Homo sapiens: one gene and its partners. The protein of the gene in region 1 purifies or fractionates together with the protein of each later gene. This does not show direct contact. Each region holds a gene or a part of one and is shown in the gene's direction. Other genes may lie near its edges.

Region 1 (3,500 bases):
CTGCTTCTACCTCCAATCCATTTTCTGTAAGATGACTTTTAATACATTAAATATGTCACCTGCTTAAAATCTTTCAATGGTCTACCATTGTATTTAAAATAATTCACACTCCTTGGCATAAGCCCTCTTTGATCTGGGCCTGTCTACGCATCTATCCTTACCTCATGCCTCTCTATTGTGTTCATCAAATATTCAAAGCTTTTTCCTACCTCAGGACATGACATATATGGTATTGCTTCCTTCTCCCTACAATGAAATGCTCTCCTCCTCATCCTTTTATCATCAGTTCGAATGCTGTTTTTGCAAAGAAGCTCACCTATTCTTACTATGCTGTCTAAATTAACTGACTCTTCCTTACCTTCAGCTAATCTTTCATCCTTTGTTACATTGCACGTATTATTCTGTAACACTTAACATTTACTACAATCTGAAATTTTCTTACTTGTTTTACTTGTTTATTGTCTCTTCCTTGAGAGCTAGTCCTTGGGAGCATAAGTTCTCAACTTACTGAATAAATGAAGTTACAATACTACTACTTTATCCTTCTTCCTATGTAGCTTAATAAGATTTTGATGATAAGTGGCAGCATACAGGCCAATTCATAAAACACCATAGACCCAATTTTTACACTGACTATTTAAGGAGTTCTGGGTAAAATCTTTTAAAACTTTTTGTTCTATAATTTGTAAAACCAGAGGAAATACCATCTTTAAGGTCTTGGCTGACAAATTCTGTTTTCCTGACTTGAAAGAGTTCACTCCGGTAATTATTTATTTTACATTCAAGATATCAGTATTACGTGGCCTTTTGATATGAAGAAATTATTGATATAGAAGAGGTAGCTAACTGGAATTAACAATTATTTGTATTGCTCTAAAAGTTCTTATTTCTGTTACTTAATTGTATCAGCCATAACACAGTCTCACTGGACCTGTTTCCTCTTCATACAGTATAATGAGGGAGGGGGACTAAACAGTCCCTTCTGGATTTTAAGTTCTGTGATTCTCTGAGAATGGATTATATTTTTATTTTTTATTAAAATTCTCTTGGTATCATAGCCAAGTTGCCCAGTCTAACTTATTTCTGGATTGATAGGAGAACAAGTTGTACTGGAAAAAAAAAAAACGAGTCTTTTTAAAATTAAAATATTAATTGAACATTGCATTTGAATCTTTACAGCTCTTCTAAAATGTTCTTTTAATTAATTTGAGATATTAATTTGCTTTTAGCAGTTATTATTCTGTAGATGCTTTTAGAAGTGTGTTACATTCTGTTCACTAAGGTACATGATTTGTATTTTTAAATGCCACCCTTTTTTATCTCATTGTTAAATAGGAAGTACCATTGGCACAAACTGCACAGCCCACATCAGCTATTGTTCGTCCAGCATCATTACAGGTTCCCAATGTGCTGCTTACAAGTTCTGACTCAAGTGTAATTATTCAGCAGGCAGTACCTTCACCAACCTCAAGTACTGTAATCACCCAGGCACCATCCTCTAACAGGCCAATTGTGTAAGTGATTCAGGCCAATCATTGAACATATACATGAATTAAGTTTGTTTTGTAATGATTTTTCCTAAGACATTTGATTATTCAAACTAAGATCTTAGTTTTGTATGTGTGTGCATGCTTCGAATTTTGGAAAAAGTACTTGCGTAGTCTTCTTTAATATAAATATTAACTAACAGAGTGGGAGATAAATACAACTAAAAACAAATATAGAATGTGAATTTAAGATAGTCTTATTTTCATGCTATTTCACACAAAATATAAAATTACTGCATCACCAGATTCCATTTCTTTCAGTTCTTACTGGTAGCTCCCAAGAGCTCTCTGATGACAGTTTTTCTCATTTTACAAATTGGAGATTGTCCTAAGTAAATCCATAACTTTTCTCTTCTTTTCAATACTGCTACACAGGTTATGCATTTAAGATGCAATTAAAAATAATTAAATTTTGCTATTTGCTTTGCTGTGGTTAGAAAATGTATTTTTAAATGATATGATTATAGGAGTAAAAATACTATTGTATTTTTAAGAGACAGTTGGTATGAATCTCTTTTTTAAAATTTCTCTTCTTTTGTTTTTCTTAGCCCTGTACCAGGCCCATTTCCTCTTCTGTTACATCTTCCTAATGGACAAACCATGCCTGTTGCTATTCCTGCATCAATTACAAGTTCTAATGTGCATGTTCCAGCTGCAGTCCCAGTAAGAAAGTTAGACTATTTAAATCTCTATCGCAAAACTGATCTTTGTAGTCAGAAAATAAAGTTGGCTGCTTGACTGGCTTATGAAATTGAATTTAACATAATATTGATTAGCAGTTGATAGTATTTATTTGTTATCATTGTAATAGCATATACCATTCAAGGTATAGCTATTTTTTCTCTTCTCCCCAAAACCTTAATTTTTTTTTTATACTGAGATCTTCTTATTCAACCCATATCAATTTGACTGGACTTGTAGCATTCAAATATTAACACAGATTTCAAATTTTAGAAAGATATTTGTACTAGAATACTTGTCAGGTAACTCTGTGGTATTTCTATTAGTATGGAAATTGTTTATAAAGACACACTCTGAATTTTTGTGGTCAAGTAGGGTTTGTAGAATCTTTGATAGCCCAGCATGTTAAAATGTAAATGTTCTAGAAAAATAATCTTTCACTTTCCCTGTGAAAAGACCCCGCAAAAAAGTTTTTTGAGGGGTGTGTTAAATATATAAATTTTGAAAGACGTAGACAAAATAGTTAACTATCTACTTATGATATTTAATAGTTTGGCCAGGCATGGCAACTCATGCCTGTTGTAATCCCAGCGTATTGGGCGGCTGAGGTAGGAGGATTGTGTGAGCCCAGGCGTTTGAGACTGCAGTGAGCTATGGATCCTGCCTGGATGACAGGGCAAGACCCCAAGTCAAAAAAAAAAAAAAAGTAATAGTTTAATGAACATTTAAAAACACATTGTTTGGAATAATGTGTGTTAGAAAATTGCTTTTTTCTTACTTACATTACATAAAACAGTTTTATTCAAACAAACTCTTCAGTTATGTCTTTGACATTCAAATTTTCATCCTGAGAACCACTTTTTGAGACATCTAGCACAGTTTCCAGAACACAGTATTTTCTTTTTCATCTAAATCATTTACGATATTACTTTATGAATCTCTCTATTATTCTCTCCCTGGAAATCTTACACCAAGCATTAGGTACTTATTTATGTAATAAAAAGATAGTTTTTTCTTTTACCTTCTAAGATGCTTGTTACTGATCAGTACAGTGTAATCATTTACAGTGTAGCTTTTAAAAATTATTTTTAGGCCAAGTGCAGTGGCTCATGCCTGTAATCCCAGCACTTTGGGAGACCAGGGTGGGTGGCTTGCCTAAGTCCAGGAGTTCAAGACCAGGCTGGGCAACATGGCAAAACCCCATCTCTACAAAAAATAAACACAAATTAGCCAGTTGTGATGGAAGCACCTGTAGTCTCAGCTACTCAGAAG
Region 2 (3,500 bases), on another chromosome or scaffold:
GGCCTCCTTTTCTTAAAGCAGTGTTTTGGTTTCTCCCACAGTATTCTGAAAAGGAGGACAAATATGAAGAAGAAATTAAACTTCTGTCTGACAAACTGAAAGAGGTGAGTGTGGTGGCACCCAGCGAGCTCTGGTTTCTCCTGGGGCTGGTCTTGAAGCCATGATAGTAACTCCTTTCTTCTTATCTAGGCTGAGACCCGTGCTGAATTTGCAGAGAGAACGGTTGCAAAACTGGAAAAGACAATTGATGACCTGGAAGGTATGAGGTTACCATCTAAATGTTTGCCTTGCCCTGCCTTCCCCTCTGGGACACATCCACGGACAGTTGGGGAATGTTTGTGGAGGGGCTGGGTTGGGCTTTGTTTGCCTTAGGAAAGTAAAGCGCATAGTGATGTCATATCTGGATGTCCTGGAACACTGGAATAGGATAATGCAAAGCATTCAGGCTTGAATGGCCCTTTTTTTTTTTTTTTTTTTTTTCTATGAGACGGAGTCTGGCTCTGTCTCCCAGGCTGGATGGAGTGCAGTGGCGCCATCTCGGCTCACTGCAACCTGCGCCTCCCGGGTTCAAGTGATTCTCCTGCCTCAGCCTCCCAGGTAGCTGGGACTACAGGCGTGTGCCGCCACACCTGGCTAATTGAATTGCCACTTTCAGGAGGTAAAATATCTCTGCTTAGTTAGTCCCATGAGCAAGTATAGAGAAAAGAGTATGGCTCTCTCTGATTAAAAAAATATTAATAATAAATTAAAAATCTCAGGCCAGGCGCAGTGGCTCAAGCCTGTAATCCTAGCACTTTGGGAGGCCGAGGCGGGCGGATCACTTGAAATCAGGAGTTTGAGACTAACCTGGCCAACATGGTGAAACCCCGTCTCTACCAAAAATAGAAAAAATTAGCCAGGCGTGGTGGTGCACGCCTGTAATCCTAGCTACTGGGGAGGCTGAGGCAGGGAGAATCCCTTGAACCTGGGAGGCGGAGGTTGCAGTAAGCCAAGATCACGCCACAGCTCTCCAGCCTGGGTGACAGAGCCAGACTCCGTCTCAAAAAAAAAAAAACTTCACAATTTCCTTCTGTTTGCTCATTTCTGATAGATGCCTTGCATTTTTTTTTTACATGCCTTGCATTTTTGCAGAAGCTCTGTCCCAGGGAGCTCAAAGCTTATCATAGTATTTAAAAAAAAAAACAGAAATACAGAAAGTGTAGGGACTGCAATAAAGACTAGTCTGCAAGTCTGGGGCCCACTTCTCCCAGAATTTTTTCAAGAGTTCCAGTGTTTAACATTCGGCCTCAGAAATTCCAGAATCTTGGGGTTCAAATGGAATCTTCCAAACTGCCCATCCCACCCAGAAAGGACACATTCTTCAGACCATATCTTCCAATGTTTTTTTGGGGAAGTGAGGTTCCCATATAAGGGAAAATGCCCCATTCCAAAATACGACCTTTGGACAGGGTGACGTCATTGGAAATCCGAAATAAACTGAGGGGTGGGGACCAGTGGGGGGAAGCTCTGTCACTTCTGGTTACCACTGTTTTGAAGCTTCATTGTGGCTAATCCCCCTGCAGAACCTCAAACCACTTAGAGATCAACTCCATAGATCTTTGGTTTTCTTCATCTGTTTCACATGGAACACAGCTTTCTCCTAGTCTGTGCTTTGTTTGCTCACGTGTTTTTTTCTTCCTCTTGTGGTTCATCTGTGGCACTCCATTCCGACCCTTGCCTTCTGTCCCCTGTACTTCTGAACTGTCTCCCTGGGGACCTCCGCCCTCTAGATGAGTTATACGCTCAGAAGCTCAAGTACAAAGCTATCAGCGAGGAACTGGACCACGCTCTCAACGACATGACCTCTCTCTGAGAGGCAGCCAGGTCGCTGCCCTCTGTCCTTCTCACATGGTGCCTCCTACGCCCCTGTGGGCTTCTAGGAGCTCCGGTGGCCTGCCTTCTGGTTTGAACGTCAGAGCCTTCTTCTGATGTGTCTGTGACTCTACAACCGAAATAAAGACGGGCAGTCCTCCTCTTCATGCCCCCTCATTCTCATTTTCTCCACTTGCTGCCTTTGAGCTGTAGCTGTGTGCCCTTAACCATAGCCTGAAACACAAAGTGGGTGGTTAGCCTCTCTCACTCACAAATGAAAAGCTTATTACAAAAAGAAAATTATGCCTACAGGATGCTTTTCTGAAGACGTGAAAACAAAAGCAAACTGGGCATGTGCTCTCAGATACCGCTGTTAGCTAACGGCATCTGCATGCCAATAATTTTTTTTTGTTTTTTTGTTTTGAGACAGGGTCTTGCTTTGTCACCCAGGCTGGAGTGCAGTGACACCATCATAGTTCACTGCAACCTCCACCTACAAGGCTCAAGCTATCCTCCCACCTCGACCTCCCAAGTAGCTGGAACTACAGGTGTGCACCACCACACAAGGCTAATTTTTGTACTTTTTTTTTTTTTTTTTGAGGCGGAGTCTCACTATGTCGCCCAGGCTGGAGTGCAGTGGTGCAATCTCGGCTCACTGCAACCTCCGCCTCCCGGGTTCAAGCAATTCTCCTGCCTCAGCCTCCCAAGTAGCTGAGATTACAGGCATACACCACCACACCTGGCTAATTTTTCTTTTGGATTTTTAGTAGAGACAGGGTTTCACCATGTTGGTCAGGCTGGTCTCAAACTCCTGACCTTGTGATCCGCCTGCCTTGGCCTCCCAAAGTGCAGGGATTACAGGCTTGAGCCATCACGCCTGGCCATTTTTGTACTTTTTGTAGAAGCGGGAGGGTTTCACTATGTTGCCCAGGCTGGTCTTGAACTGCTGGGCTCAGGCAGTCTGCCCACCTCACCCTCCCAGGGTGCTGCAATTACAGGCATGAGCCACCGCGCCCATCCCCAATGGTTTTTCCTTAAATAGAAATTGTTGTGAATGGAGGCTCATCCTTGTAAACCGCTTAGGCAGCTTAAGAGTCAACAGGGATTTGGAAAAACCAGCAAGCCTGTGTCAAAAATGAGGCTCCCCTTGAATGGGGCTTGAGCTACAGATTCAAACAGCGGCAGTGACATTTTGATCTCCATTTCCTCCTTTTCTTGTGTCTTTTCTCTGTGTTACACTGTGAGTGTGGTGACTGGGGCTTCCCGTGGCTTTACTCTTCACTGTTCATCCAGCTCCCAGTCCTGGGAGGAAGTTCACCTCCACGCCCTGCCCTTAGAAAACTGACTGTACAAGGAGTGAACGGGCCTCCATGAACAGGGAAAGTGCTGTGACGTCAGAAGACGTGAATTTAGAATTCTTTTCCCGAATTCCAGAATTGCCTGAGACTGCTAACATCAATCTCCATTCATATTTCAGTTAGTTATAACAGGAACCTTGCTTTAGTTTAGAATAGCTCTTAAGGTTGACCTGTGGGTAATAAAAGGTCATGCTTTTTCCTACATGAGGAATATGGAGAAAACAAGGTCACTCTTTTTTTTTTTTTTTTTTTTTTTTTTTTTTTTTTCAAGACAGGGTCTCACTCTGTTGC
Region 3 (4,079 bases), on another chromosome or scaffold:
GCTGCAATCCCGTTCTCATGTGCAGCACCACAGGTTTTGCTTTCAAATATCTGCAGGTGCATCCTCCTGCACTCGTTAAACTAAGGGTTTTCCTTTTCTGTGCTAGACCCGCTTTTACGACCACGCTCTCCACCTGATTCACAGAAAGGGTTCTACGACCGTCAGGTCACCGCCGCCTTTGTACTTTATTGGGGAGTCGAAGGCCTCAGCGCTGCTCGCGATTTCCCTAAGGTGGTCGGGAAGGTCCCAACCACGTTCTTCTGTAAACCAGATAAGGAAGGCCTGGGGATTCCGGCCGCGGAAAGGCACAGAGGAGGTGAACGCTCCGGCTGCCCAAGTGACGCACTTGTAGGCGGATTCGGAAACTCGTGCTCTTGAGCCGGAGGCGGAGCCCCCAGACTCAGACCGACCCCCCAGAACCGGGCGGCCTTGCCCGAGGCATGAAGGCTTTCTAGGCCCGCTTCTAAAAGCTGTGTACAATGGAGACTCCTGGAATAGGCACATATCTCTACTGTAATCAGAACGAGATGTAACATCTAAGACGCAGGGCAGGGCTCTGGCAAAGACACGCTGGGGGAACGTGAAAGAAAGGGCCAAAACTACGCAGCTGGTCCTCAGAGACCAAAGACTACGACCCCCAGCATTCAATGCAGTGAACCCCTAGGACGTTGCATGCCGGGAGCTGTAGTTTCTCACCACCGCCACCCCCCCGCCCCCCCGCCATCTGAAAGGGTTCTAGGGGATTTGCAACCTCTCTCGTGTGTTTCTTCTTTCCGAGAAGCGCCGCCACACGAGAAAGCTGGCCGCGAAAGTCGTGCTGGAATCACTTCCAACGAAACCCCAGGCATAGATGGGAAAGGGTGAAGAACACGTTGCCATGGCTACCGTTTCCCCGGTCACGGAATAAACGCTCTCTAGGATCCGGAAGTAGTTCCGCCGCGACCTCTCTAAAAGGATGGATGTGTTCTCTGCTTACATTCATTGGACGTTTTCCCTTAGAGGCCAAGGCCGCCCAGGCAAAGGGGCGGTCCCACGTGTGAGGGGCCCGCGGAGCCATTTGATTGGAGAAAAGCTGCAAACCCTGACCAATCGGAAGGAGCCACGCTTCGGGCATCGGTCACCGCACCTGGACAGCTCCGATTGGTGGACTTCCGCCCCCCCTCACGAATCCTCATTGGGTGCCGTGGGTGCGTGGTGCGGCGCGATTGGTGGGTTCATGTTTCCCGTCCCCCGCCCGCGGGAAGTGGGGGTGAAAAGCGGCCCGACCTGCTTGCGGTGTAGTGGGCGGACCGCGCGGCTGGAGGTGTGAGGATCCGAACCCAGGGGTGGGGGGTGGAGGCGGCTCCTGCGATCGAAGGGGACTTGAGACTCACCGGCCGCACGCCATGAGGGCCCTGTGGGTGCTGGGCCTCTGCTGCGTCCTGCTGACCTTCGGTGAGTGATTCTGGAGGAGCAGACGTCCCCCCTCCACACACGCGGCCGCTTCTCGAAGGTCCTGGGGGCGTTGAACGTGGGAGGGGGGATCCCGGGGCCTGCGGTGGGCCAAGGGACGTCACCATTCCTCGAAAGAGGGCAAGGGAATTACGTTTATTCTCTTCTTCCTCTGGAAATAAAAAAAGAGAGCAACATCATCTAACTGCCCTACAGATCTAATAGTATCTCGCCCGGAGGTCTCAGCGACCTCGGGGTGGGGCCTCTCTGAGGCTCTGGCTCCCCCGGGAGCTGTGCGAGTCCCTCCCCCCTCCCCGCCCGGAGGACTTTTTCGGCCACCGCAACCTTCGGCCATCCCAGCTTTCCCGTCCCCTAATTCCCCAGACTCCGACTCCTCGCAAGCCCGTGTCCCTTCTTAGATGCTGGCCTCGGGAGCGTGAGGCCTGGGGCCAGCGGAATGGCAGTGTCAGCGTGTTTGATTCAGTTTTGCTGGAGTTCGGTTCTTAACATTTCTCCCCCTTCTCATGCCTCTGGGCTCAATTTCAGTTCCCCTCGCCAGAGGTTGCATAAATCCTATTTGCATTCTGACCTGTGCTAACGAAGGCCGAAGTTTTGGCTTGATCAGTTGGGAGGCCTTGGCTCGGCCTGCGCGCAACACGTGTGGGTGTAGAAGAGGCCTGGTATCAGTCTGCTTAACGTTATTTATAAATGATCGGAGACACACTGTTTAGAAGTGGTGACTGCCTCCGTATTTCAGGATCTACTGGAGACTTCAGCATCTGAACTTAAATAGATGTTCTGTCTTGGCTTTACCTTTGGTATTTAAACCAGGGAATGCACTCTTTCATCCCCACCTCCCTTAGTTACCAACTGAATTTTGCAACCCCTACCCTTCCCTATTTGATCATCCTCCTTGGAGAAGTGTGATGTTGAAGAGTTTGCCCGTGTTAAATCTTCAGGGTCGGTCAGAGCTGACGATGAAGTTGATGTGGATGGTACAGTAGAAGAGGATCTGGGTAAAAGTAGAGAAGGATCAAGGACGGATGATGAAGTAGTACAGAGGTTTGTGTTCATTTGAACTTACGTATACAGATAAGCCGTGTGAACCTTGTGAGTTACGGTCACTTCTTATGTATCTCTTCTCCAAAGGTCCAGATAAAGTCTAACACCCTGTATTTAAATACCCGGTGAGTTGTGTGCATACATACCTCCTAACTTGTCCCTAGGAGTGATGAAAACTGAGTGAATTCCTTTGAAAACTATATTGCAGAATACTAGCACCATAAACTTTGTAAGACTTTATAGAAGATACTTTCAGTTGGATTTGTATTCATTAACTGTGTACACCGAGTAAGTTTAAAAATGGGATTTCTGTCAGTTGAACAATATTTTAAAATTTGGCCTCTTGGGACTTATTGACAGTTTTGAAGTCCTCACTGTGGAGCATAAATGAGTATGACTTTGCTTTTTAGTAGAGGAAAGTTGGGATTTTTTTTTTTCTGGCAATTTTAAGAACCGAGTATTTCCAGTGTAATGTTAAAGGTAGCCTACTGCTGTGCTAACATAATGAGACGGTATATCAGTTATATTTTATAAAGGTTTCCATTTTAACCCCCAAGACAATATTCAGAGGCCCCTGTGCTTTCATCATAATTCCTCTAGTTTTGAAGGGAACTATGCCATGCAATATTTGCTTACCTAACTGATTTCCTTAGAGAGGAAGAAGCTATTCAGTTGGATGGATTAAATGCATCACAAATAAGAGAACTTAGAGAGAAGTCGGAAAAGTTTGCCTTCCAAGCCGAAGTTAACAGAATGATGAAACTTATCATCAATTCATTGTATAAAAATAAAGAGGTAAGCAACATGTGGTTAGAATATTTTATCTCTGTATGGTGGCATACTTGTTTACTTAAATTTGCTTAATTTACTGCAAAAGTAATGTAGTATCCAAGTAAGTAGGTAACAACCTTTAAATACCTAATATGTCCAAGAATTGCTACCAGATATCTGGGAAGAAAGGGAGTGTCAGACATTTTCCTTTTCCTTTACCTCTAAATAGGTTCACGGCCTGATAATAGTTGTGAGTCTAAGGGCAGTCACATAAACTAAACTTCTTGCATTGCATACCTGAAGATCACTGTTAGGTGAATAAGAGTGCTTTTATAAGGTACAGAGAAGAAATAAATGGGTTTGGCATAAAATCGAATATCTTAATGCATCTTGAGGATAGTCTAAGTGTATTCCCTCTGGCTTCCATTTAGATTTTCCTGAGAGAACTGATTTCAAATGCTTCTGATGCTTTAGATAAGATAAGGCTAATATCACTGACTGATGAAAATGCTCTTTCTGGAAATGAGGAACTAACAGTCAAAATTAAGGTAAGTGTAAGGCAGTTTTTCTTTCTTTTAAAGGAAAAGGAATCCTTAAAGGTAGAGGATCCCTATCAGTCAAGATAGGCTAGATTATTTTGCAGTGGCAAAAAAACCCCAAGTCTCAGTGGCTTGAAAGTCATCAAACTATGGCCAAATCTAACTTGACTTGTTTTTCTAAGTAGTTTTATTGGAATGCAGCCATGCCCATTTGTTTATTATCTGTGACTGCTTCTGTGCTTCAACAGCAGAGTCAAGTTGTTTTAACAGAGAACA
Region 4 (3,500 bases), on another chromosome or scaffold:
ATGTAGACAGAAATGGCACCACTGCTTATGAAGGAAACTGGAACCCAGAAGCACACCCTCCCCTCATTCACCATGAGCATCATGAGGAAGAAGAGACCCCACATTCTACAAGCACAAGTAAGCAAGATGGCGGTCGGCAGTTCTGGGTTAGATGAATTAGTAAAGACATTCCAGCAATAGGGAAGATTTTGTTTAGAAATTGGCCGCATCTTCTATTTCCACTCGGTAATTTCTTTTATTCTTAGAGCCTGAAAAGCTGCTAAACCCGCACACAAATTTTAAAAATTGGAAGGAAAATGATAACTCATCAGGTTGCCCAAAGGCCAAAATGTTTTAAGAAGTAGATCTAGATACAATTTTTGTGTTAAAGGTTCCTAGAGGTTCCATTTGGGTAACTTGTGTGTGTTCATTGAAATGTGTGGCAAAGAGTGTGTTCTTTTGGTGCTTAGTAGTGGAATCTGGAAAGAAAGTTTGTCAAGTGAATTGATCTTTGGAATCCTTATTTTCTATGAAGATCTTTGATGAATACAGTGTCTTTTTTGCATTCTGTCCCTGACTGTTCTATAGAAAGACATCCCTTGTACTCTTTAGAGCAAAGTTGGTAGCTCTTATGGTCTTCATTTGAATTCTACCACTGCTTCTTTTTCTGTTTTTAAGCCCATGGTAACTTGGGGAAGGCTTTGATGCTCTTACTGTTATTTCTACTATTATGAAAACTCAGGTTTTCCAAAACAATCTCAAGTTGCGGCAGTGGACTGTGAGAATAGGGGGCCCCCTCACTCCCCAAACATAAGAAGTATGTGCTTTTCTTCTTTTATCTATCCCGCTGAGATATGTCTATCTTATTTGGAATAAAAGTATTTATTTTGGAAAACAGCTTTTTAGCATTTTTAAAATGATGACCCAACTGTCATTCTCACAGCCCTAGATACACCTAATGGGGAAATGTGAGCCACTTAAAAGCCACTTAAAAACCAAAGGGCTTTGGGAATCTATGGCTTGAGGGGTGCCTTCAGATAACAAAAGAAAAGTTTCAGGTATCAGTTAGGATAGAGGTTAGACATTGTACTGAATATATCCAGCAGATCTTACATCCCATTACAAACCCCAGTAGGTGTGTTGTATACATACGGCTTAGGGGTTAAGTTAACAAAGAAGTCTGATAAGAAAAGGAAATACAGAGGAAGCATAAATCTCTTTGGAATAGGATTTTGTTCCACTCCCTTAGAGCCCTAACAGTATACCTTAGAAATTATTTTAGACAGTTTGTACTTAAAGACCAGAAAGCTACTTTAGAGACTTGGAAATAATGAGCCTATTGTCAAAAGGTGGTGCTTGCGGGGCATTAGGACTAGAGGGTTGGTGAAAATTCAGACAGAATGTAACTTGACAAAGAGAAGACAGCAACAACTGTAACAATTATCTTATGAATATTTGCGAAACTCAAAGGGATCTGATTGGTGACCTCTGGGCTTTATCAAATTAACATCACAACTTCTAGAAGAAAGTCAACCTTCATCTTTTACAATAGAAATCATATGTTTTGCTAACCCATTCCTATTTAGGCTGAAAACAATTAAGAGTTATGGGTACTTAAAAAAATCATTATGTTTATAAAATTAGTGATAGAAGGAGCATAGTGTTCTATACAGTCACACACATACACTTCCTTATTTCTTTTATTTAAACTTTGAGTAACATAGCAGTCTATGTTTGGGTCAGTTTTCCCTTTTTTGTAATTACATTCAGTGGTTTTTGTAACTTCATTATTTATTGGGAATTAGTGATTTAGTCAGTGGGAGTTTTGTAAAACTTAAGATTTTGGCTTTTTTCCCCCTCCTCCTGGATAACCAGTTAACCCAATAATGGCTTGGCCGATGGAAGGGTAAAATGAGGACAGTTATATTTTTTAAATGTCATTACTGTCACCAAATCACACATATCATTTTCTAAGATAAGGAAATACAACCATTTTTACAAGTTGCAAAAAAGTACTCTGGCTTGGCAAGTTTATAGACTCTCATTTTCTTGATAAACTAAAAAAAAAAAAGAAATTGCTACAAGCTGCTATAGACAAAAATGTTGGTGTCTTTCTGACTTTTCCTGAAGACACCTTGATGGAATTATATTCTCTTGATTTTGTCCTTTTTAAAATGATGGTTGAAATTTTAAGCCTGTCACACACTATTATTTATATAATGCCTCAAACTGGCTTGGATAGTTTTCGTCAACTGAATTAATTTTGTTAAAAAGTGATTTTAGCAATTTTAGGTGCCATGTGGACATCACCAAATACTGTGTTAGTGGAATAGCATCCAAGCCATCCCACCATCTTTCCTGCTGGGCAAATCCACTGCTGGTGCATTTCCAGTGTGTGCGATTATGGGTTACATGACCACCATTTGAGAAGGTCTCCTAATGTGCTGATCTTGTTATTAGCTGTTATACAGTGTTTTCCTTTCGTCAAAATGACTGGAGCAAAGAGGTTATTCTTTGAATGGTTTTCTCAGACAGGGTATGTGAAGCCATTCACTACAGTAAAATAAAAATAATAATAACTCATAGAACTATGAGAATTCATCAGCTATGGTCTGCTTAGTCCTATGATTTTGAACAAATCAAAACTTCTTTGGACCACAATTTTCCTAGCTGAAAAATTAAACATTTGGATCATTTGATTTCTCATATCCCTTTTAGAATATCAGTGGCCTGTTTCCTTGGTGCCTTTCTTTTCTACCTTCCCTCCCCATGTGTATCTGCCCTTAAAGTAGAAAGATATGTTGACAGCTATTGGTGAGGAAAATAGACAATTATGTCTCCCAACTGATATTCTTCTCACAGTCCAGGCAACTCCTAGTAGTACAACGGAAGAAACAGCTACCCAGAAGGAACAGTGGTTTGGCAACAGATGGCATGAGGGATATCGCCAAACACCCAAAGAAGACTCCCATTCGACAACAGGGACAGCTGGTAATGGATGGTTTAACAAGTAAATTTGGATGGAAACTTCCTTTTGGGTTAAACGGTAGACATTGAGGACATTGAACAAAAGGACACTGGAGGAATTGTCACGAGATGTTAGGTTACTTAATAAATTATGCTGCAGTTCACACAGAGCCAAACCTTAAAGGCTCATAACAAGTCACCTGAACAGGAATGGATACAAGCCAGTTATGAATAAGAACAGGAAACACAGAGAAAATGCCCTTGAACATGTCTCTTTCACATCGAGTTTTGGGCATCATCTAGTGAGATTGTAGCAGAGGCCCTGATAAAATATCGCTGTCTGTTGTATAAAGGAATCTACTCTATAATGTGGGTCCAGACTTTACAATATGATTCTGCAAAGTCTGGCTGTGAGAAAGCATTTTGTCAGAACTCCAGTGTTTGAAGAAATAGAGCCAGACATTATGTGAAAAGTGACACCTGTCTGATGTCATTTGGCCTTTTGGCCATGCCTGTTCAGTAATTTGTTTTTGAGTATAAAAAAGGTATCTTCT
Region 5 (3,500 bases), on another chromosome or scaffold:
TTTCACTGATGTCTCAAATCCGTCCCATGAGCACTGACTGAGTGCCAGGCAGATGCAAGTCCCTGTGGGGGGTGCTGGGTGCAACGGCACGTGTGAACGAGGTGGAGGGTTGTGTCTGCTCTCACAGAGTGCTGGTTTGCAGGTAGCTGTACACAGCATGCTTGGGGTTGTCGGGTGGGCTTCCTGGAGGAGGTGGCATTAAGGGGCAGGTTGAGTAGGAGTTCACCATAAAGGGGATTGCAGCAGGAGGTGGTAGTGTGGGCAAAGGCCGGGAGGCTGGAAGGGACGTGAACCTGGGGAACAGGCAAGGTCAGTGATCCCCTGGGGCTGGTATCCAGGGCCAGGGTGGATGGCCTCAGAGACCAGGCTGAGGAAGGGACCTTCCCCCTGAGGACAGTCAGGAGCTATAGAGGACATGAAAACTGAGAGGACAGCAAGTTTTCACTAAAGAACTGCATGTATAGGCCAGGCATGGTGACTCAAACCTGTAATTCCAGCACTTTGGGAGGCCAAAGTAAGAGGATTGCTTGAGCCTAGGAGTTCAAGATCAGCCTGGGCAACATAGTGAGACCCCATCTCTATATTAAAAAAAATTTTGGCCGGGTGCGGTGGCTCATGCCTGTAATCCTAACACTTCGGGAGGACGAGACGGGCGGATCACAAGGTCAAAAGATGGAGACCATACTGACCAACATGGTGAAACCCTGTCTCTACTAAAAATACAAAAAAAATTAGCTGGGTGTGGTAGCGAATGCCTATAGTCCCAGCTACTTGGGAGGCTGAGGCAGGAGAATCACTTGAACCTGGGAGGCGGAGGTTGCAGTGAGCCGAGATCGTGCCACTGCACTTCAGCCTGGCAACAGAGTGAAACTCCGTCTCAAAAAAAAAAATTTTTTTTTAATTAGTCCGACATGGTGGCACATGCCTGTATTCTAGCTACTCAGGAGGCTGAGGTGGGAGAATCCTTTGAGCCCAGGAGTTGGAGGCCGCAGTGAGCCATAATCGTGCCACTGCACTACAGCCTGGGCAATAGAGTAAGTCTGTCTCAAAAATAATAATAATAAAAAATAATTATCCCAGCTCTTTGGGAGGCCAAGGTGGGCGGATCCCTGGAACCCAGTAGTTTGAGAATATCGTGGGCAACATGGTGAAACCTTGTCTTTACCAAAAAAAAATAACAAAAATTAGCCAGGCGTGATGGCACACACCTGTGGTCCCAGCTACTCGGGAGGCTGAGGCGAGAGGATCCCTTGAGCCCAGGAGGTCGAAGCTGCAGTGAGCCAAGATTGCTTCACTGCACTCCAGCCTGGGCAGCAGAGCCAGACCCTGTATCAATAAATAAATAAATAAAACTTTAAAAAAATCCATGAACTATGAAACCAGCAGCCGTCCCTCTAAAACTGGAGGAGCACGCAGGGCTGAGCTGTAATTGAGGTTGTCTAGGGATGATGCTCCCATCTCAGCCATTGCTAATGTGGGCCTCGCCCTGCACTGGGCGCAGAAAGCCCTGCCAAAGCCACTGCCATTCCCACCACTGCGTAGATGGAGACTGGGTGGGAGGGGTGAGGCCTCTGTCCCGGGGCTCAGTTTCCCCAGCCTTACCGATTTCTGAACGAGTCTATCTGCGGCTCCCCCTGGTGGCTCAAGATGGAATAGCACCCTGCCCTTTGTGTTTTGGGGAGACTTTTTTTTTTTTTTTGAGACGGTGTCTCACTTTGTCACCCAGGCTGGAATGCAGTGGCGCATTCTGGGCTCACTTGAAACCTCCGCCTCCTGGGTTCAAGCGATTCCCCTGCCTCAGCCTCCCGAGTAGTTGGGATTACAGGTACCTGCCACCACACCTGGCAAATTTTGTATTTTTAGTAGAGACGGGGTTTCACCATGTTAGCCAGGCTGGCCTCGAACTCCTGTCCTCAGGTGATCCACCTGCCTCGGCCTCCCAGAATGCTGGGATTACAGGCGTGTGTCACTGCGCCTGGCCTGGGGGAGACTTTTGAGTCTTTTTGAGGTGACACCTGGAGACTGCACAATCACTGGGGCAGGCCCCCCACAACACCCAAGAGTGGCATACTTAGGTGTCCAGGTCCCACCCGGCTACAGTTGGGGGTGGTGGGTCTCCATTTATCACCAACTCCCATCAGAAACGGGCCTGAGAAGCGTCTCTGTGGCTACCAGAGTTTTCCCAGTTTAAGTTCTCACATATATTTGTGTTGTCATTTCCTTTTTTTGAGACAGAGTCTCGCTGTTACCCAGGCTGGAATGCAGTGGCAAAATCACAGCTCACTGCAGCCTCAACCTCCTTGACTCAAGCGATCCTTCCACCTCAGCCTCCTAAGTAGCTGAGACCACAGGTGCATGCCACTACCATGCTCAGCTAATTTGTTAATTTAGGTTTTTGGTTTTTTTGGTTTTTATTTTTTTGAGATGGAGTCTTGCACTGTCGCCTGGGCTGGAGTGCAATGGTGCGATCTTGGCTCACTGCAACCTCCGCCTCCCAGGTTCAAGTGATTCTGCCCCACCTTCCCAAGTAGCTGAGTTTAACAGGCGCTTGCCACCACGCCTGGCTAATTTTTTGTATTTTTATTTTTATTATTTTTTGTTTGTTTGTTTTTTTTGAGACGGAGTCTCGCTCTGTCTCCCAGGCTGGAGTGCAGTGGCCCGATCTCGGCTCACTGCAAGCTCCGCTTCCTGGGTTCACGCCATTCTCCTGCCTCAGCCTCCCGAGTAGCTGGGACTACAGGCGCCTGCTACCACATCCGGCTAATTTTTTGTATTTTTATTGGAGATGGGGTTTCACTGTGTTAACCTGGATGGCCTCGATCTCCTGACCTTGTGAGCCACCTGCCTCGGCCTCCCAAAGTGCTGGGATTACAGGCATGAGCCACTGCGCCCAGCTAGTTTTTTGTATTTTTAGTGGGGACAGGGTTTCAGTATGTTGGCCAGGCTGGTCTCGAACTCCTGACCTCATGATCTGCCCACCTCAGCCTCCCAAAGTGCTGGGATTACAGGCATGAACCACTGTGCCCGGCCTTCTTTTTTGCTTTTTTTGGAGATGGAGTCTCTGTCACCCAGGCTGGAGTGCAGTGTCACCATCATAGCTCGCTGCAGCCTTGAACTCCTGGGCAATCCTTCTGCCTCAGCCTCCCAAGGAGCTACAGATTTCCCCTTTTAAAAGCACACAAGCCATGTGGATTAGGGCCCACCCTAATGACCTCATTTTAACTCGATGACCTCTGTACACAACCCTGTGTCCAAATAGGATCATATCCTGGGGTACTGGTGGTTGGCACTGGGGAGACACAGTTCACCCCATGACATAGTGCATGATCTCATGACATCTCTTTGTGAAACCTCTCAGTGGCTTATTGGCCCATTTTATAGATGAGGAAAGCTGAGGCCCAGGCCAATCAAGAATATACAGCATGCCATCATTTCTTGGTTCATTCTACAAGCAATTACTGAGTGCCTGCTGTGTGCCAAGCCCCTGTGTTGGGCACTAG
Region 6 (3,500 bases), on another chromosome or scaffold:
AGCTTGCAGTGAGCCAAGATCGCGCCATTACACTCCAGCCTGGGTGACAGAGCAAGATTCCGTCTCAAAAAAAAAAAAAAGCAAAACTAAAGCTAAATTGGCTTACAGAGGTGTTGAGGTCATGGCTTTAACATAATTCTGACTCTGAGATACGTGGGAGAGGTGGGTGGAAGGAGTATAATATGACCCTTAGAGCTTCACCAGTCCAGGGATTTTAAAATCAGTGTCTTTTCTTTACCACACAGACTGACATTGAGATTACACGAGAGGAGGACTTCACCCGAATTCTCCAGATGGAGGAAGAGTACATCCAGCAGCTCTGTGAGGACATTATCCAACTGAAGCCCGATGTGGTCATCACTGAAAAGGGCATCTCAGGTGGGACTTTGTTACTTTTTCCAGCCTACCTTTGAGGTAGACGAGGGTGGGTGATTTGTTTTCTCCCCTCATGTTTGGCAGGGGCGTAATAGTGTCATGGTTAAGAGTACTTTGATTATAAAACCAGTTCAGAACCCAGCTTGACATCTCTACTCTTGGATTTGTAGATTTAGCTCAGCACTACCTTATGCGGGCCAATATCACAGCCATCCGCAGAGTCCGGAAGACAGACAATAATCGCATTGCTAGGTGAGTAGGCCAGGTAAAAACAAGACTTTTCTTCCCGTGTGTTTCCTTTTTGTAGTTGCGTAACAGTCATCATTACCTGAAAAGGTTTAATAAAGGATATAGTAACAGGTAGAAATAACCTTGGCTTAGCTGCCTGCCCTCTTCAGAAGTCCTCTAGTCCAACAGTTATTTACTGCGTGAGTCTCATCTGTACTGCCCCTAACCATTAGTGAGCAGCTTGTGCTTAGACATTTGTAATTGCTACCTTGGTGGGTGTCCGTTACATTTCTAAATAACTGCCTATCTAAGAGGTTTTCTTTAATGTCATTATGATGATTTTTGAATGAACATTTCCAGAGTATCCTAAGTGGCCTGGATTATAGCAGAACCATCAGTTTCCTCAGCTACATCCTTAGCTGCGATTTATGCGATTCTAGATTGCATTCACTACTTCTGCACTGATGTCTGTGCTCATAGACCATTCTTTTTAATAGACAAGGTCTTGCTGTGTTACCTAGGCCTGTCTCAAACTCCTGGGCTCAAGCAGTCATCCTGTTGTCAGCCTTTCCAGTACCTGAAACTATTGGCATGCGCCACCATGCCCAGCAAAGTTCATTCATTTTTAATTTATCAAAAAGCTGACAAATCTACCCCAACATAATATATCACAGATCCAAATCATATTTTATACTTTTATACCCCAAAGGGTATTAACATGCATACACATAGTTGACTTCACATGGCCATGAGTTGGAGGGAGTGACAAGCAATTAGTCCTACATTCATTAAACTTCGGTCAGACGTATGCAGTCATCCCTTGATATCCACAGGGCATTGGTTCTAGGATCCCCGCCCCCTTGAATACTAAAGTTTGTGGATGCTTAACCCTTATATAAAATGGTATGGTATTTGTGTATAACCTATACACATCCTTCTATACACTTTAAATCACCTTTAGATTGCTTATAATGCCTAATATAGCATAAATGCTATATAAATAGTTGCTATACTATATTGTCTTTAAAATTTATATTATTTTTTGCCGTTGTATTATTGTCCATCCCCCCACCCCACCCCCCCTGCCATGTTATCAGTGCATGGTTGGTGGAATCTGGATGCGGGACCTGCGGATATAGAGGGCCAACTCTACTTACATGTTTATTCGCCTTCCTCCTTGCTTGACCTTTGCATCTTTGGTACAGTCTTTATTATTCGCCTGGAGACTCAACTGGGCAGTACAGGATGGGTTATATCTAGAAGTTACCATTATATAGTATAGACATGTTAATTTTTTTCTTTTATCTTTCTTTTTTGCAGGTTCTAATTCTCTAGTTGAAATATGTACATGTTAGATATGCATGAGAACTAATTTGTCCAGATTTTAGTAACCACAAAGTATATTTTGAATTCAACTATATCTGGTTATAGTAGTGATGACTAGTTGCCTTAAGTGTACAGTTGACCCTTGAACAACTTGGGGGTTAGGGGAATCAGTCCCCAAGGAGTTGAAAATCCATGTATAATTTTTTGACTCCCCCACTCCTAATAGCTGACCGTTGACCCGAACCCTTACCAATAACACAATTAACTATCACATATTTTGTATATCATATGTGTTATATACTGTATTCCCTTAAATAAAGTAAGCTAGAGAAAATGTTATTAAGAAAATCATAAGGGCAGGGCACGGTGGCTCATGCCTGTAATCCCAGCACTTTGGGAGGCCAAGGCAGGTGGATCACCTGAGGTGAGGAGTTCAAGACCAGCCTGGCCAACATGGTGAAACCCCATCTCTAATAATAATACAAAAATTAGCTAGGTGTGGTGGTGCATGCCTGTAATCCCAGCTACTCGGGAGGCTGAGGCAGGAGAATTGCTTGAACCAAGGAGGCGGAGGTTGCAGTAAGCTGAGATGGTGCCATTGCACTCCAACCTGGGCGACAAGAGTGAAAGTCCGTCTCCAAAAAAAGAAAATCATAAGGAAGAGATAACACATTTACTATGCCTTAAGTGGAAGTAGATCATCAAAAAGGTCATCATCATCTTCATGTTGAATAGGCTGTGGAGGAAGAACGGGCTGGTCTTTCTGTCTTGGGTGTCAGAGGCAGAAGAGTGGTAGAAGGGGAGGCAGGATGGGCAGGAGGCACACTCAGTGTAACTCAATGGAAATACATCGTGATTTGTCTGACTTCTGCTTTTTTGTTTCTCTAAAAATATTTCTGTATAGTACCAGTCCCTCTTCCACTGCTTCAGTTTCAGTGCCTCTATCATAGAAGGGTCCATATCATAAAAGAAGTCAAAAGCAGTCTTGAATAATCAGAAGCCTTCTGCCAGATTGTCTAATGTCAGTTTGTTTTCTGGCACTGCTGCTTCTACATCATCTTCCTCATCGTCTGGCACTGCTTTGGAAGCAGTCGTCTCCATCAAGTCATCTTCTGTTTGGTTTTTTTTGTTTTTATTTTTTATTTTTTTGAGATGGAGTTTCGCTCTTGTCGCCCACGCTGGAGTGCAGTGGCACAATCTTGGCTCACCACAACCTCCGCCTCCTGGGTTCAAACGATTCTCCTGTCTCAGCCTCCCGAGTAGCTGGGATTACAGGCGTGAGCCACCAAGCCCAGCTAATTTTGTATTTTTAGTAGAGACGGGGTTTCTCCATGTTGGTCAGGCTGGTCTTGAACTCCCGACCTCAGGTGATCCACCCACCTCAGCCTCCCAAAGTGCTGGGATTACAGGCGTGAGCCACTGCACCTGGCCTGTCATCTTGTGTTAATTCCTCTGATGTAATGTCTGTTAGCTCTTGAGTTTCTCCAAGATTCATATCTTGAAACCCTTCACCACCGCTATGCCAGTTTTTTTAGCCACATCCACAGTCTCTTTCATGATTTCCTTGATTG
Region 7 (3,500 bases), on another chromosome or scaffold:
ATAGTGGTCAGGTGCCCCTGTAGTTAAGTGTAATCATGTGTTGCTTAACAGGGATGTGTTCTGAGAAATGTGTCATTAGGCAATTTGGTTGCTGTGTGAACATCATACGGTGTACTTACACAAACCAACATGGTATAGCCTACTACACTCCTATTCTATATGGCAGGGCCTATTGCTCCTTGGTAACAAAACCTGTACAGCATGTTACTATAGCTAATACGGTAGGCAGTTGCAACACAATGGTACCTATTAGTGTATCTAAACATAGAAAAAGTACAGGGAAAATATGGTATAAAAGATAAAAAATGGTACATCTTTATAGGGCATTTACTATGAATGGAGCTTTCAGGACTGAAAGTTACTCTTGATGAGTCAATGAGTGAGTGATAAGTGAATGTGAAGGCCTAAGGCCCTTACCATACACTACTGTAGACTTTATAAACACTGTACACTTAGACTACACACTAAATTTATAAAAAAGTTTCTTCAATAATTAACCTTACTGTAACTTTTACACTTTGTAAACTTTTATATTTTTTTAACTTTTTGACTCTTTTGTAATAACACTTAGCTTAAAACACAAACACATCGTATAGCTGTATAAGCATCTTTCTTTATATCCTTATTCTGTGAGGTTTTTTCTGTTTTTAAAAATTGTTATTATTTTTTCCTTTTTAAACTTTTTCTTAAAAATGAAGATGGAGGCCGGGCTTGGTGGCTGACGCCTGTAATCCCAGCACTTTCGGAGGCCGAGGTGGGTGGATCACGAGGTCAGGAGATCGAGACCATCCTGGCCAACATGGTGAAACCCTGTCTCTACTAAAAATACAAAAATTAGCTGGGCATGGTGGCACACACCTGTAATCCCAGCTACTTGGGAGGCTGAGGCAGGAGAATCGCTTGAACCAGGGAGTTGGAGGTTGCAGTGAGCCGAGATCACGCCACTGCACTCCAGCCTGGCGACAGAGTAAGACTCCGTCTCAAAAAAAAAAAAAAAAAAAAAAGAAGATGGAAACACACACATTAGCCTAGGCCCACACAGGGTTAGGATTATCAAGATGTCACTTAGCAATGGGAATTTTTCAGCTCCATTATCGTCTAATGAAACCACCACTGTGTATTTGGTCTCTTGTTGAACAAAGCATGTTGGAACATTCTATGAGGTACCTTATGTTGCTTTTAAAAATATAAACAGATTTCTTTCAATAGAATTACACATTTCTTTATTGGTTTGCATTCTAAAAACGATCAAATTTAGTACAGTTGTCTCTCAGTAAAGGGGATTGGTCCCAGGACCCCTGAGAATACCAAAATCTGTGGATGCTGAAGTCCCTGACATAAAATGGCATAGTATTTGCATATGCACATCCTCCCTTATACTTTAAATCACCTCTAGGTTACTTATAGTCCTAATACAATGCTATATAAATCGTTGTCATACTGTGTTTTTAAAATTTATATTATTTTTCATTGTTGTATTGTTACTTTTATTATTTTTTGAACATTTTTGCTCTGTGATTAGTTGAATCCACAGATGCAGAGCTGGTGGATGGGAAGGGCCGACTACAGTTTATTGTTTAGCCAAATGGTTCTAGACTGCTGTTTACATGTTTCTGATCAGAACAAGCATTGCAGGACTTTAGTTACAGAAGTCCATGGAATTGATTGCATAGATTTAATGGCTGCCCATGTCTACCCAAAGGCCTATTTTGACTCTTGATTCTTAGCCCCATTCTGAAGAGGTAAGGTTATTGTATAGTTAACAGATGGACAAGACTTTTCCTTCCTTCCTTCCTTCCTCCCTCCCTCCCTCCCTCTCTGCTTTCCTTTCTTCCTCCCTCCTTTCCTTTCTCCCTCCCTCCTCCTTTCTCCTTCCCCTCTCTATTCCTCCCTCCCCCGTCTATTCCTCCCTCCCTTTCCTTCCCTTCCTCCCTTTCCTCTCTTCTTCTTGCTCTGTTGCCCAGACTGCAGTGCAGTGGCATGATCATGGTTCACTGTAACCTCGAACTCTTGGGCTCAAGGGATCCTCCTGCCTCTGCCTCCCAATTAGCTAGGACTATGGGTATGTGCCACCATGTCCACACTGAAGAAATAAACAAAGCTTCCTTAAATATGTGGTAGAATTTACCAGTGAAGCCATCTGGGCTTGGAGTTTTCTTTGTGGAAAAGTTTTAAATTATAGCTTCTGTTTCTTTAACAGATAATAAGGGCTCTTCAGGTTTTCTGTTTCTTTGTCAGTTTTGATGAATAGTGCTTTTCAAAGAATTTGTCCATTTTATCTAAAATTTAAAATTTGTTGTTTTAAAGTGTTCATAATATCCTCTAATTATCTTCTTTATAGGATTTGTAACGAGGTCTTCTTTTAATTCTTTGTTTTGGTAATTTGTATTTTCTCTCATTTATTTCTTGTTCAGTCTTAGTAGGGATTAACAGTTTTGTTAATTTTTTCAAAGAACCAATGTTTGGCTTTGCTTGTTTTCTCTTGTTATCTCTTCTATTTCACTAGTATCTGTTATTAGTTTCTCTCTTCTTTGGGTTTAGTTTGCTGTTCATTTCCTAACCTTTTAAGTTGGAAGCTTAGAGTGGTGGTTTTTACTTTTTCTATTTTCAATAATTTTCCCTCCAGGGACAGTTTTGGCAACCCTTCATGCTATCGTTCAGTTTAGAATATTTTTCTAGTTTTCATTGTGATTTGACATGCGGGGTTATTTAGAAGTGTGGTGCTTTATTTCTTAACATTTGGAGATTTTCTAGTTATTTTTCTGTTGTTGCGTTTCATGTAAATTCGGTAGTGGTGGAATCTATGGGTTGATTTTTTTTTTCTATCAGATTTGAAAATTCTCAGCCATTGGTTTTTCTAGTATTGCTGATTTCCCATTCTTTCTTTCTGTTCCTTCTGGGCTTTTAATTATGCCCAATATCTCATACTTTTTTGTGTTTGTCTTTTTCATTCATTTTTCTCTCTGTGCTTGGTTTGGATATTTTCTATTGACCTGCCTTCAAGTTTGTATTGTGTGTTGTTATACTCATCCAATTTAGATATGGTATTTTGCAGTTGTAGAATGTTCATTTTATTCTTTTTTATGGATTTTATTTCTCATAATACACTATCTTTTTATCCCTTTTCTTTTTTTTTCTTTAACATGTTTATCATAGTTTGAAGTCCTTACCTAGAGATGCTATTCTTTGGATTACCTCTGGGTCTGCTTCTATTGAATATTTTATCTCTTGATTAGTGGCTACTTTTTCTTGCTTCTTTGCATGTTCAATAATTTTAAAATATGTGCTGAACATTGTGGTTGAAACGTTGTAGAAGCTGTGAATTGTCTTCTTTTGAAAGATGTCACATTTTGTTCTAAGAGGCAGTTAAATTATCAGCTCTTCATCTTTGTTCTGTCAAGGCCTGGTATAATGTTTTCTTAGGTTAGGTCTGTTTGAGCTTTGTTTATATTTCTTCAGTGTGGTCCATTTTTCTAAGGTGTGGTCTTTGTGGGGTGTCA

Evidence for each region.
Region 2: the proteins of ATF2 (region 1) and TPM4 purify together in Homo sapiens (co-immunoprecipitation; 2 studies listed by BioGRID and IntAct, with this or other methods). This does not show direct contact.
Region 3: the proteins of ATF2 (region 1) and HSP90B1 purify together in Homo sapiens (co-immunoprecipitation; 2 studies listed by BioGRID and IntAct, with this or other methods). This does not show direct contact.
Region 4: the proteins of ATF2 (region 1) and CD44 purify together in Homo sapiens (co-immunoprecipitation; 2 studies listed by BioGRID and IntAct, with this or other methods). This does not show direct contact.
Region 5: the proteins of ATF2 (region 1) and COLGALT1 purify together in Homo sapiens (co-immunoprecipitation; 2 studies listed by BioGRID and IntAct, with this or other methods). This does not show direct contact.
Region 6: the proteins of ATF2 (region 1) and CCT3 purify together in Homo sapiens (co-immunoprecipitation; 2 studies listed by BioGRID and IntAct, with this or other methods). This does not show direct contact.
Region 7: the proteins of ATF2 (region 1) and RAD18 purify together in Homo sapiens (affinity purification with mass spectrometry; 2 studies listed by BioGRID and IntAct, with this or other methods). This does not show direct contact.

Annotation. Positions count from the first base shown.
Region 1 is NC_000002.12:175,112,704-175,116,203, reverse strand, and holds part of ATF2 (cyclic AMP-dependent transcription factor ATF-2), read left to right. Parts: intron 1-1,335; coding exon 1,336-1,514; coding exon of another isoform or gene 1,515-1,518; exon of another isoform or gene 1,519-1,961; intron 1,962-2,095; coding exon 2,096-2,210; intron 2,211-3,500. UniProt on the Homo sapiens protein: Transcriptional activator which regulates the transcription of various genes, including those involved in anti-apoptosis, cell growth, and DNA damage response.
Region 2 is NC_000019.10:16,093,495-16,096,994, forward strand, and holds part of TPM4 (tropomyosin alpha-4 chain), read left to right. Parts: intron 1-41; coding exon 42-104; intron 105-189; coding exon 190-259; intron 260-1,769; coding exon of another isoform or gene 1,770-1,852; exon of another isoform or gene 1,853-3,250; intron 3,251-3,500. UniProt on the Homo sapiens protein: Binds to actin filaments in muscle and non-muscle cells. Plays a central role, in association with the troponin complex, in the calcium dependent regulation of vertebrate striated muscle contraction.
Region 3 is NC_000012.12:103,929,131-103,933,209, forward strand, and holds the start of HSP90B1 (endoplasmin precursor), read left to right. Parts: upstream 1-1,279; 5' UTR 1,280-1,385; coding exon 1,386-1,434; intron 1,435-2,390; coding exon 2,391-2,493; intron 2,494-3,146; coding exon 3,147-3,288; intron 3,289-3,695; coding exon 3,696-3,812; intron 3,813-4,079.
Region 4 is NC_000011.10:35,201,671-35,205,170, forward strand, and holds part of CD44 (CD44 antigen isoform 1 precursor), read left to right. Parts: coding exon 1-117; exon of another isoform or gene 118-874; intron 875-2,841; coding exon 2,842-2,970; intron 2,971-3,500. UniProt on the Homo sapiens protein: Cell-surface receptor that plays a role in cell-cell interactions, cell adhesion and migration, helping them to sense and respond to changes in the tissue microenvironment.
Region 5 is NC_000019.10:17,572,649-17,576,148, forward strand, and holds part of COLGALT1 (procollagen galactosyltransferase 1 precursor), read left to right. Parts: intron 1-3,500. UniProt on the Homo sapiens protein: Beta-galactosyltransferase that transfers beta-galactose to hydroxylysine residues of type I collagen. By acting on collagen glycosylation, facilitates the formation of collagen triple helix. Also involved in the biosynthesis of collagen type IV.
Region 6 is NC_000001.11:156,314,293-156,317,792, reverse strand, and holds part of CCT3 (T-complex protein 1 subunit gamma), read left to right. Parts: intron 1-245; coding exon 246-378; intron 379-545; coding exon 546-627; intron 628-3,500. UniProt on the Homo sapiens protein: Component of the chaperonin-containing T-complex (TRiC), a molecular chaperone complex that assists the folding of actin, tubulin and other proteins upon ATP hydrolysis.
Region 7 is NC_000003.12:8,942,973-8,946,472, reverse strand, and holds part of RAD18 (E3 ubiquitin-protein ligase RAD18), read left to right. Parts: intron 1-3,500. UniProt on the Homo sapiens protein: E3 ubiquitin-protein ligase involved in postreplication repair of UV-damaged DNA. Postreplication repair functions in gap-filling of a daughter strand on replication of damaged DNA.